Regions from separate parts of the Homo sapiens genome. Here region 2 is linked to region 1. The links come from fine-mapping of genetic effects on gene expression. Tissue or cell type: caudate. Region 1 holds a variant in brackets; the other region holds the start of a gene. All regions are shown on one strand. Distances are from middle to middle.

Evidence for each region. PIP is the estimated chance that this variant, and not a neighbour inherited with it, causes the effect.
Region 2: it holds the start of ENOX2, and the variant in region 1 is fine-mapped to the expression of ENOX2 in caudate (GTEx, PIP above 0.99).

What each region holds. Positions count from the first base shown.
Region 1 is chrX:130,592,736-130,597,887 of GRCh38, reverse strand. No RefSeq gene overlaps it. Among named protein-coding and RNA genes, the nearest start is that of RBMX2, 190 kb to the right of the region's middle. RefSeq lists a cis regulatory region at 3,306-3,323 and an enhancer at 3,243-3,387. The variant C/G (reference allele first, on the strand shown) is at 3,086.
Region 2 is chrX:130,901,218-130,906,369 of GRCh38, reverse strand. ENOX2 (ecto-NOX disulfide-thiol exchanger 2) reads left to right here and starts at 3,161. Exons shown (of 15, transcript NM_006375.4): 1 at 3,161-3,321; 2 at 4,639-4,686. RefSeq lists enhancers at 2,946-3,135, 2,756-3,275, 3,146-3,415, 3,276-3,795.

The sequences.
Region 1 (5,152 bases):
ATCCAGCAATGGGTGTTTTGTAGTCAGAAAATTTTTAAGCTGTCTCATCTATCAAATCACCTTTGTTTCTATTTGCAGCCTTTGGGAGTATTTGGGATCTGAGAAGAAAATCCACACAGAATTCTGGTGGGTTCCTTCTCTCTTGGACAATTTCATGTATGATGTTTATCTCCAGGCTGAATGAAAGACTATAAGGGTCCCTTCTCAATTCCAGGCCATTCTCCATGCTCCTTTCTTTGCTGTAGGCTACAAAACCTCAGCTTTGTCTCATCTCCTCTCCATAGTTGCTATCTCCTCTCCTCTCCCATAATTGTGGTTATGGAAGGGGCCATAACCTCCTCAGCTTCCCTCCTTTTGGGGGCTCTACATAACTACCTACACTTAAATGTTTTATTAGTTCATTTTAAGGACTTTACAAGCTGATCATGTGACGAAACACACAGAGGCTAGCAAAACATGAGACCAGTAAAACATCTTTTAGTTATGGTCCATGTTCTGTTGATCTTTTATATAGGGGACCCCTGACACAAGTTTTCTCAAACTCTGAAGACCAGTGTACAGTGGACCCCAGAGAATCAGCATGATTCTTCAAGAAAGAATCAGTTTCTCTTGGCTCAGCTCTGCCTCCCTCCCTACTCAATGAATGATGATTCTGCTATGGGGAACACTGGCATTTTAAAAAAGTTCATTGATTATGCATCAACATCTGTATGGCAAATGCACCATTCAGCAGTAGCAAGTAGGACACATTGAAATTCTGATTTAATAACAAAAAAGAAATATGCTTTTCACAGATCCATTTATGTGCCAAAATACTAGAGCTGTCAGAACATCTGCAACACTTCATATTAGGACTTTTATTTTCTTTAGTGAAGAAGAAGGTGTGTATGTTTAGAGAGGGATTGTTAACTAGAATTTTCATCCCTGTATATCAGGTAAGTATTAAAAACATATATTTCTATAAGCCAATCTCCCAGGATTTGATTAAGTCTCCCTTGGGCAGTTTCATGCCAGGATGCCACAGATAAGACCAAATCAAAGAATTTAGACAAGCATCCCACAACCCACTTTGTGTAAACTAGCCTTTTTATTTTGACTCTTGAAACCAAACTTCTTTGGTGAATCCTCATGTATTTCTTTCTGGAAAAGAAAAAAGCAAACCATACTTAAATTGAAATATTTCAGTCTATGAATTTACTGTTCATCTGCCCTGAAGCCAGGAGTGATGGGCTGTATGGCCAAAATCCCATAATTATAATTTTTAAAAAGGTCCTCCTCCACTAATCCAGGGATTCTTATCCTGAGGTCCATGAACCCCTATGGGATCCATAGCAGACTTTATGAAGACTTTGAACTCTCCAAAACTCCAAAACTGTGTACTAAATTGTGTAGGGAAGTAGGGGGTTAGGGCTTATGTGCATTCTTTTGGGAAAGAGGCCCTGGCCTTCATCGGATTCTCCAAAATATTCAAAACTCTTTGCAAAAAGTCTGGCTTGGTAGATCAAGAAAAATGGCTAAGTTTCTGCCCCTTGCTACAAAGGCCTTGGGTTTGGTCCCATGTGATTCAGGAGGCTTTCCAAGTGGCTAAAATTCATGAATAAACAGTGTTTATAAATAGGCTCAGACCTGCGAAATGCTGTCCAAAATGGCATGCATGGGTCATGGGTCCAGGACCCATCAAAAGTTATTTTGATGTCCTAGACAACATGCTGAATGTGGGCCCTGATGAGCTTGGGGCAGATGAATCTTACAGTTTGGCCTCTTCCTCTCCAGGCTCTTTGAACTCGGCAGCGGCCTTATGCATGCTCTACAACTCAATATCTTGGCATCCACCTAGCTGTTGTGCTCCTAACTTGGGGTGTCAAACTACAAAGGGAAAAATAATTTTAAATAACAGCAGTTCATATTTATTAAGCATTTCCTCTGTCAAACACTGTGCTCAGTGTTTTATTAATTAATTAATTAATTTATTTATTTATTATTTTTTCAAGACAGAGTTTCACTCTTGTTGCCCAGGCTGGAGTGCAATGGCATGATCTCAGCTCACTGCAACCTCTGCCTCCCAGGTTCAAGTGATTCTCCTGCCTCAGCCTCCCGAGTAGCTGGGATTACAAGCACCCGTCACCACACCCAGCTAATTTTTTGTATTTTTAGTAGAGACGGGGTTTCACCATGTTGGCCAGCCTGTTCTCAAACTCCTGACCTCAGGTGATCTACTCACCTTGGCCTTCCAGAGTGCTAGGATTACAGGCGCGAGCCACTGTGCCCAGCCCGTGCTCAGTGTTTTATATGTCATTTAATCCTCATGACAACCGTGTTATTATTAGCTCCATTTTACTTATGAGGAAACTGAGGCTCAATACTGAGGTTGTGACTAGCCCAAGGTCACAGAGCTGGTAATAGGTGAAGCTGTCAATGTTCATGGTATTTACCATGAGACTACACTGCTCCCCACCTCTCCCCAAATTTCTCCCTCCATTCAGAATGCCTTCGCCTACTCTTATTCGGCACAGTCCATATACTTTCTCCAGGTATTGGTAACCCCAGAAAAAGCAATGAAAGCATTTACAAAATACTATGTGCCAAGCACTGTATCAAATGTTTTTCATGCAGTATCTGATTTAATCTTAACCAAAAACTCCAGTATCCTCTTGCATAGGGCATAATGAAGCAATATGGTTAGCAGTTAATAGCATCGTTTTAGGAATCAAACTACCATTTTACAGATAAGGAAAGCAGAGCCTAGAGAGGCTAAATAATCACCCAAGGCCAAACAGCTAGCAAGTGGCAAAGCTGGGATATGAACTTAAAATTTTCTGACTCAAGAGACTGTGCTGTTAAACACAGAAAACATCTTTTAAAAACACTAAATGTGATGTTAAGACAATCAGTCATCAAAGTTTATACTATTTTAGTGAGGTGGAGAGCAAGGGTAAACACCTAACTTAATTTTCTTTTTTCTGTGACATGTTGCCTTTCCTGTGTCCCTCTCTAGGTGACGGAGCCTCACATGCAGTAATTTGTGCTAACATCAGCATAATGAGACAGAGCCTAGGCACTGTGCATACATAAGCCAAACAATACA[C/G]AAAACTTCCAATTGACTAAACCAGTCATGCCGGATTTATGAAGAGAAAAGAAAAGGGCGGACGACGTGACCAAAATACACTCTCACTGAAAAGCACTTTTTGTCCCCCCACCCCCGCCCCGCATCCCCTGCTTTATTGCCTTGTAAAACAAGAATTACAGCATAAAGCACGTGGCTTATATCACAAGCAGGTCACATGTGGTGCTGGTGACCTGCAGCTCTTATCTACCCCTAGCAGATTCACTTGCAGCCTTCTTCTGTCTCTGCACACTTCCCTGAATATAAACGTGCTTGCTAAGTGGTCTGCACCTTGGGTCCATTCTTGCCTTGGGTAGGGAACACACAGAATTCTGGGACCAGACATGAGGATCTTTTACTTTAGTGAGACAATAGTCTTGGTTTTAATAAAAAGGAGGAGGGCTACTGTGTCTCTGCTGCAGATGGTATTAGGGGAGGGAAGAAGTAGTCAGAATATTAAATCACCTTTCTTTGTATGCATGGTCAGATTTGCTATTCGAAATTCAGCAAGCTTTGAAAACACGACACTGCGCACTGCCTCCAGGTTTGGCAGCTCTTCCTTTTCTGTTGGGATGAGTGCCCGACCTCAGGGAATAGTTCCTTTAGATGTCAGCTACACACTTTGCCCAGACAAAGCTTCCAACAGCTTGACTTATTCCAAAGAACCCCCATAGCAACTGAGAGGCTATTAGCATGGTTAGATGTCGGGTAGGCCGAGCTGCATCCACAGAAAGGGAGAGAAAGAGATGAGAGGGATGTTGTCGATAGAAGCTTCAGGAGTGGGGAAGAAAGCCGCTGAGAATTGTAGACGAATATCTTTTCAGCAAGGTGGCATGAAAGGTCTACATGGAGGTTAGCCTCTGGAGAATTCTTCAACTCCAGATTTTAGTGTCTCAGAGAAAATGTAGTCCTTAGGAAAGGCTGGAACTTTTCCATTATGACACTTGATGATAGCATTATGCGACAGTCAACTTGTGAATGTCAGCATTACCACCATACATTTTCAGTCATTTGCACAATCCATAAACAAATATTCCAAAAAATGTGTCATATTTATTGAACATTGGGTATTTTCCAAGCACTTTTGTGGGACTTACTTTATGAGATAAAGGTAGAATTTATTATCTGCATTTTACAGGCTAATTAATCAAAAGTACTTATTGTGAGCCCACTATATGCATAGGAGACACACATCATACTAGCATACAGTACATAATGAAGCAATGGCTTTAGTGGTTAAAAGATCAAGTTTAGGGCCGGGCGTGGTGGCTCACACCTGTAATCCCAGCACTTTGGGAGGCCGAGAAGGGCGGATCACGAGGTCAGGAGATCAAGACCATCCTGAGTAACACAGTGAAACCCTGTCTCTACTAAAAATACAAAAAAATTGGCCAGGTGTGGTGGCGGGCGCCTGTAGTCCCAGCTACTGGGGAAGCTGAGGCAACAGAATGGCGTGAACCCAGGAGGCGGAGCTTGCAGTGAGCCGAGATGGCGCCACTGCACTCCGGCCTGGGCAACAGAGCGAGACTCTGTCTCAAAAAAAACAAAAACAAAAACAAAAATAAATAAAACAAAAAAAGCAAGTTAGGAGTCGGACTTACCTGCTTTTGAGTCCCCTCTATGCCACTTGCTATGTGACCTTGAGCAGATGTCTCAACCTCTGCCTGACTCAATTGCCTAATCTGTAGAATGGAGATTATAACAACCTCACAGAATTGCTATGATTATCAAATGAGAAGATAATATATGTAAGGTGTTTGGCACTGTACCTAGAATATATCAAGGGTTCAATAAGTGGTAGCTCTGGGGAGTGGTGATATTTTTATCACCAGCTGCAGTAAGGAAAACAATAGATATGAGACAGTCCCTGTGCTCAAAGAGTTCCCTGTCTAGATGGGAAAATAAGTTGTCCACACATGAAAAAAAAATACTATCAACACCAGACAGTAACTATTAAATGCCACATGAGTGATGAAGAAAATGTTACTCAGTCTAAAAAAAAAAAACCACAAAAATAAAAACGAATAACACAATTTAAAAATGTGCAAA
Region 2 (5,152 bases), 310 kb before region 1:
CTCTCAGCTTCCTTGGAAGGCATCTCTTCTTCTACTTGCTACTTGAATATCATTATTTTCCAGGATTCCATAATCTTTGTCTTTTTAAAAACTATTATTCTAAATACTCTCTAAATTGGCTGGGCACAGTGGCTCACGCCTGTAATCCCAGCACTTTGGGAGGCTGAGGCGGGTGGATCACTTGACGTCAGGAGTTCGAGACCAGCCTGGGCAACACAGTGAAGCCCCATCTCTACTAAAAATAAAAAAAAAAATAGCCAGCTGTGGTGGCAGGCACCTGTAATCCCAGCTACTCGGGAGGCTGAGGCAGGAGAATCACTTGAACCCAGGAGGCAGAGGTTGCAGTGAGCCGAGATTGTGCCACTGCACTCCAGCCTAGGCAACAGGGTAAGAAACCGTCTCAAAAAAAAAAATACTCTCTAAGTAAAGTTTAAACAATTTTTCACTTATTTAATTGCCCTCTATATTATACTAATGTCTCCCAAATGTTTAGTTCCAAGCAAGACCTCTCTCCCAAGCTTCCGACCGGCATTTCTCAGCAGCCTATCAGGCATCTCCAACCAAAAGTTCCACAGACTCTTCAAATTTTAAATGTTCAAAACTGATTTCCTCCTATTCTTCACAAAACTTGCTATTCTTTCTAGGTTCAATATCTCAGTGAATGGTACTACCATACACTTAGTCTTCCAAGTCAGAACTTGGGAGTCGTAATGGACTCCTCCCCGTCTCTCACTTTCCACATCTACCAACTCCATCTGATTATTCCATTTCCTGCTAGAAATACTTTGATGAACAGGAACCCATGTTTTAACTCACCATTAAAACCCAAAACCTGTCATAGTGTATGGAACATAGTAGGTGCTCTGCAAATACTTTGAAATCAATGATCAAATCAAAGTAAAGAGTCATGGAAAAAAAGATAAAAAGAAAGGAGACAAAGCTGAGAAAAGAAATTCTGCATTTGATTCACACAATGTTTTTCTGGTGGCCATAATACTGAAAATGCCTTGTTTCACTCCTTTTTATGGCTGAAATGAGGTGATTTTTCTTTTTCTCTTTTTTCTTTCTTTTTTTAATTTTTTAATTTTTTTTGAGACAGAGTCTTGCTCTATCACCCACTACACTCGAGTGTAGTGGTACAATATCGGCTGACTGCAGCCCTAACTTTCCAAGCTCAAGGGATCCTCCTGCTTCAGCTTCCTGAGTAGCTGGGACTACAGGCATGCGCCACTATGCCTGGCTAATTTTCTTGATTTTTTGTAGAGACAAGGTCTCATTATGTTGCCCAAGCTGGTCTCGAACTCCTGGGCTCAAGCAATCCTCCCAACTTGGTGTCCCAAAGTGCTAGGGTTACAGGCATGAGCCCCGGCACCCAGCCGATTTTTCTTTTTTTAAAAAAGCAAATTATTTTCCTGGAGGAATTTAAAAGTATAAAAAGTATTAAAACATAATATAGCAATTCAATTACCACCCTCCAGAATGATTCCCCATAATACCCTAGCTATGTGTTCCCAGTATGTTCTATGTGTATATGCTTTAAAAAATAAACACTATATAAGCACAAAAATTCCTCTGATGGTTCTCTCCCACTTTCAAGTTAAATTATGAACTAATTGATATGACCCCTTGTTGCTGCCTGATCTAGTCTCTGCAATATGGAACTTTTGCTATTGTTCTCTGCACTCTTTCATGCCTTTATGCCTTTGCATATGCTTTGTATAGAATATGGTTGACCTCCCTGCCCCAAATCTGACAAATATTTTACTGGTTCTTCAACCAGTTCTCCAGAAGTAGAACAAGTTCTTCCTCCTCTATGTTCCTATAGAACCCTATGTAGACTTCTTTACAGCATTTTGCACATTGTATACTCATCTATTCCTCCCCCCAGATTCTCCTCTACTACAACTCCCCTCACCTGGATTTTGAGCTACTTGAGGGTAGGGACTATTTTTCCAATTCTGTGGCAACAGTGCCTAGCCCAGAGCTTTGCACAAAGCACTATGCTGAATAAATGGTTGAATTTATTAAATCGTCTTCCTCCTTCACTTATCTTTTTAAAATATTGGGCAATTACCTCAGCAAAATGCAATTCCCCTGTCTTTCCCTTCATTTTACTCGTGAGTCGAAAAGTTGTCCTCATCAAGAAGTTGTAGTAATTCAACTGTAACAAGGCTACAAGGATTCATCTCTAACAGAGAAAAAAAAAGGTCAAAAGTTGGGAGTGAAATTAGCCCTAATAAACAACCATTTTCCTCAACCTTTAAGTCACTTGGAAGTGCTTGGCATTCCCCACCTATGTCTTTATCCAGCTCTTGTAACATATTTTTACTCAAAAGGTTAAGTTTCTTAAAGACACATATAGTTACTCGTTTGTACTTAAGTTGTATTGTCTATCTGTTCTAAATTGTTATTTATAGCAGTTTATGTGGCCACTGTTTTTCATGGCAACAACATAGCTTCATTATGGATTAAATAGGCTTCTTCTGGGCTGGTGTAGATCACATTTCTATGCCTATTTATGACACTGTTTCCAGGGGGAACTATAATTTCCAATTAGAAAAAAATATATACATTCTTCCATACCTTTCAAGTGATTTTAATGCAGGTGGTTCACAAGGAACACACTTTAACAATTTTAAAGGACTATAACTCTCAATTAAAATTCTAAGCTTACCAAAGAATAAACATCATCTTTTGAAAAACACTTAAAACTCAATAACAATTTCAAATCACGATAGAAAGTGCTTCCCGCAAAATGCTAAGAGCTTAACCGACATGAAAATAAATCTAGAGCCTTCGTCTGTCCCCACAAGCACAAACCCATAACCCCAAGAGAGATTCTCTAGACAGTGCACCCAAACTACAATACCCAGAATACCCTTCCCCGTCTGAACGCTGGGGACAATCGGAAGGGGAGGGGAAGAATTGTGCGTATAGAGAAATAAGTGTCCCGCAACTCCATCTCCCATAATTCTCGGTCCTCACTTGTGTCTGTCTGCCAATGTCAACACGAGTTACCCCCAGGAAGAACAGCCTCCAGCGACCTCAAACTACATTTCCCATGAAGCCATGGGCTCGGGCCTCCGGCTTCCCCGGTGACCAGTAGCCAATAGGAGACGCCGCAGTGGGCACCCTGTGTGTGAGAGTCCAGCCTTGGGCCAGAGTGCCGGGTCTAGGCCTGGAAGCGCGAGGCGGGCATTTCGGAAGAGAGTGGCGCGGCGTGGGGCGCCGCGAGGGCACTACGAGCCCAGGAACTGCCGCGCCGGCCCGATTTTCCGCGGCTGTATAAGGACTAGCGCTTCGGTAGCCGGGGAGCTGGAGGTCAGAGAGGCAGAAAGCCCCGGTGGCCGTGGCTGGGGACTGTGGGACTGAGGGGGCCTAGGGAGGAGGGTGCTTCCGGGGCCGCGGTCCTCAGCGCCTAACTCCACCCAGCTCCACCTCTGCAGGGGAGGGGGTATCGGGACTGGGAGTCGGGGGTGGGCTTTTGAGCTCTAGGCGCCAGTTCTCTTGAGCCCGGGAGCGCGCTGTCTTTGCTCTTTTTTTTTTTTTTTTTTGGTCCAACTCGCCCGCCCCTTTTTTTTTTTCCCACGACGCCGCCCCCCTCCCCCTGGCTCTGTGCCTCCTCAGAGGTCCGAAGTTGGGGTTTGCGTCCAGGGTTTTGCCTAGGCGGTGACTGGACTCTAATTCTTACCGCAGGAATTGGGTGATCTCTTTCCTCTTTTCCCTCAATTTGTATTTCAGGTTTGGGCACATAACCCTCCCTGCGCTACACTCCCCATTTTCTTTGGGGCATGGGAATTCCTTGCCACGCTCAGGGCGTGACTTTTTTTTTTCAAACTTTCTCTTTTTGCCTCCTTAATTGATCGCCATCTCTTTACTGGCCCCTCAGCCACCTGCCACTTCCCCCACCAGGTCTTTGAAGTGGGGAGAGTTTCCCCTCAATTTCTAGAAGGGATGGGAAGCAAAAGAGGGAAGGAATCTTGCTTTTGAGAAATGTGTGTTTAAGGTTCAGTGCAGGGTTCTGGTGAGAGTAAAAGGCAAGTTAGACTGGTTATAAAAATCCAGCGCTTTAGGGGTTTCCAGCAAAGACTGATAGCACTAATGTTGACAAACATTTAGGGGGCACACCTTTATTCTACAGAATAAAGTAGACCGTGTGAAACAGACCATATTAATCATTGTATTATTACAAACGTGTGCAAAAAACGCTAAGAGGGGTCAGTGGAAGAGCATACTGATGGGGGTGGTGAGTTCATCTATGGAAGTTCAAGCCTAACCCGGGAAGTGCTGAAGCCCTCATCCGGCTTTCAGGCTTTGTGAAGGAGGTGAATTTTAATCTGGGCTCCAGCAGAGTACAGGGGATTTGAAGTTGTCAAAGAGGAGGGAGAAAATGCTTCCTGCTACTGAGATTGGACTTTGAGAAGGGTAAACAGAAGAGGGAGCACTGTGAGACAGGTGGGCTTGCCTGATTGGAATAAAAGATATCAGCACAAATATACTGGGAAATAAATAGGGTGGAGAAGCTTGGGGTCATAATAACATGATACTTTGAAACATACACATAGTTTGGATATTATTCTGTATCAAATAAAATTGAAGGCAAAAATTAAGATTGGATGATTTTTCTTTTCATCCTAGGGAACCTGATTTGAGATCAATTCTTGGAGAACACAAAGAAGTGTGATGGTATGTTCCAGGTGTGAGTTTAAATCCAAGAAGAAGCTTGTCTTGCAGATGTTTTGTTTGTAGCTATTCTTAGCTACAGTCTATAGCTGTCAACTTTAAAGCCTAGAGACATCGATATATTTTCTTAAGAAATGCATTTGCTGTCCCCGTGCATCACATTATCTGAACTGTAGTCATCTCATTGGGTGACAATAATGACTGCTATTTATTGAACCCACATAATGTCCTAGTCATCATCATAAATACTTTGTTGCATTATCTTGAGTGTTATGAAGTAGGTACTATTATTCCTGTTTCTTTTTCTAGAAGAAAACACTAAAATGCACAGAAGTTAAACAATCTACTTAAAGTCACATAGATTATAAGTTGAGTTGAGGTTTGGGTGTACAGATTTCTGACTCCAAAGCCCATGCTCTGTTCAACATGGTTTGCTGCTCCCAATGTTCTTTCTTGTTCTTGACTTTCC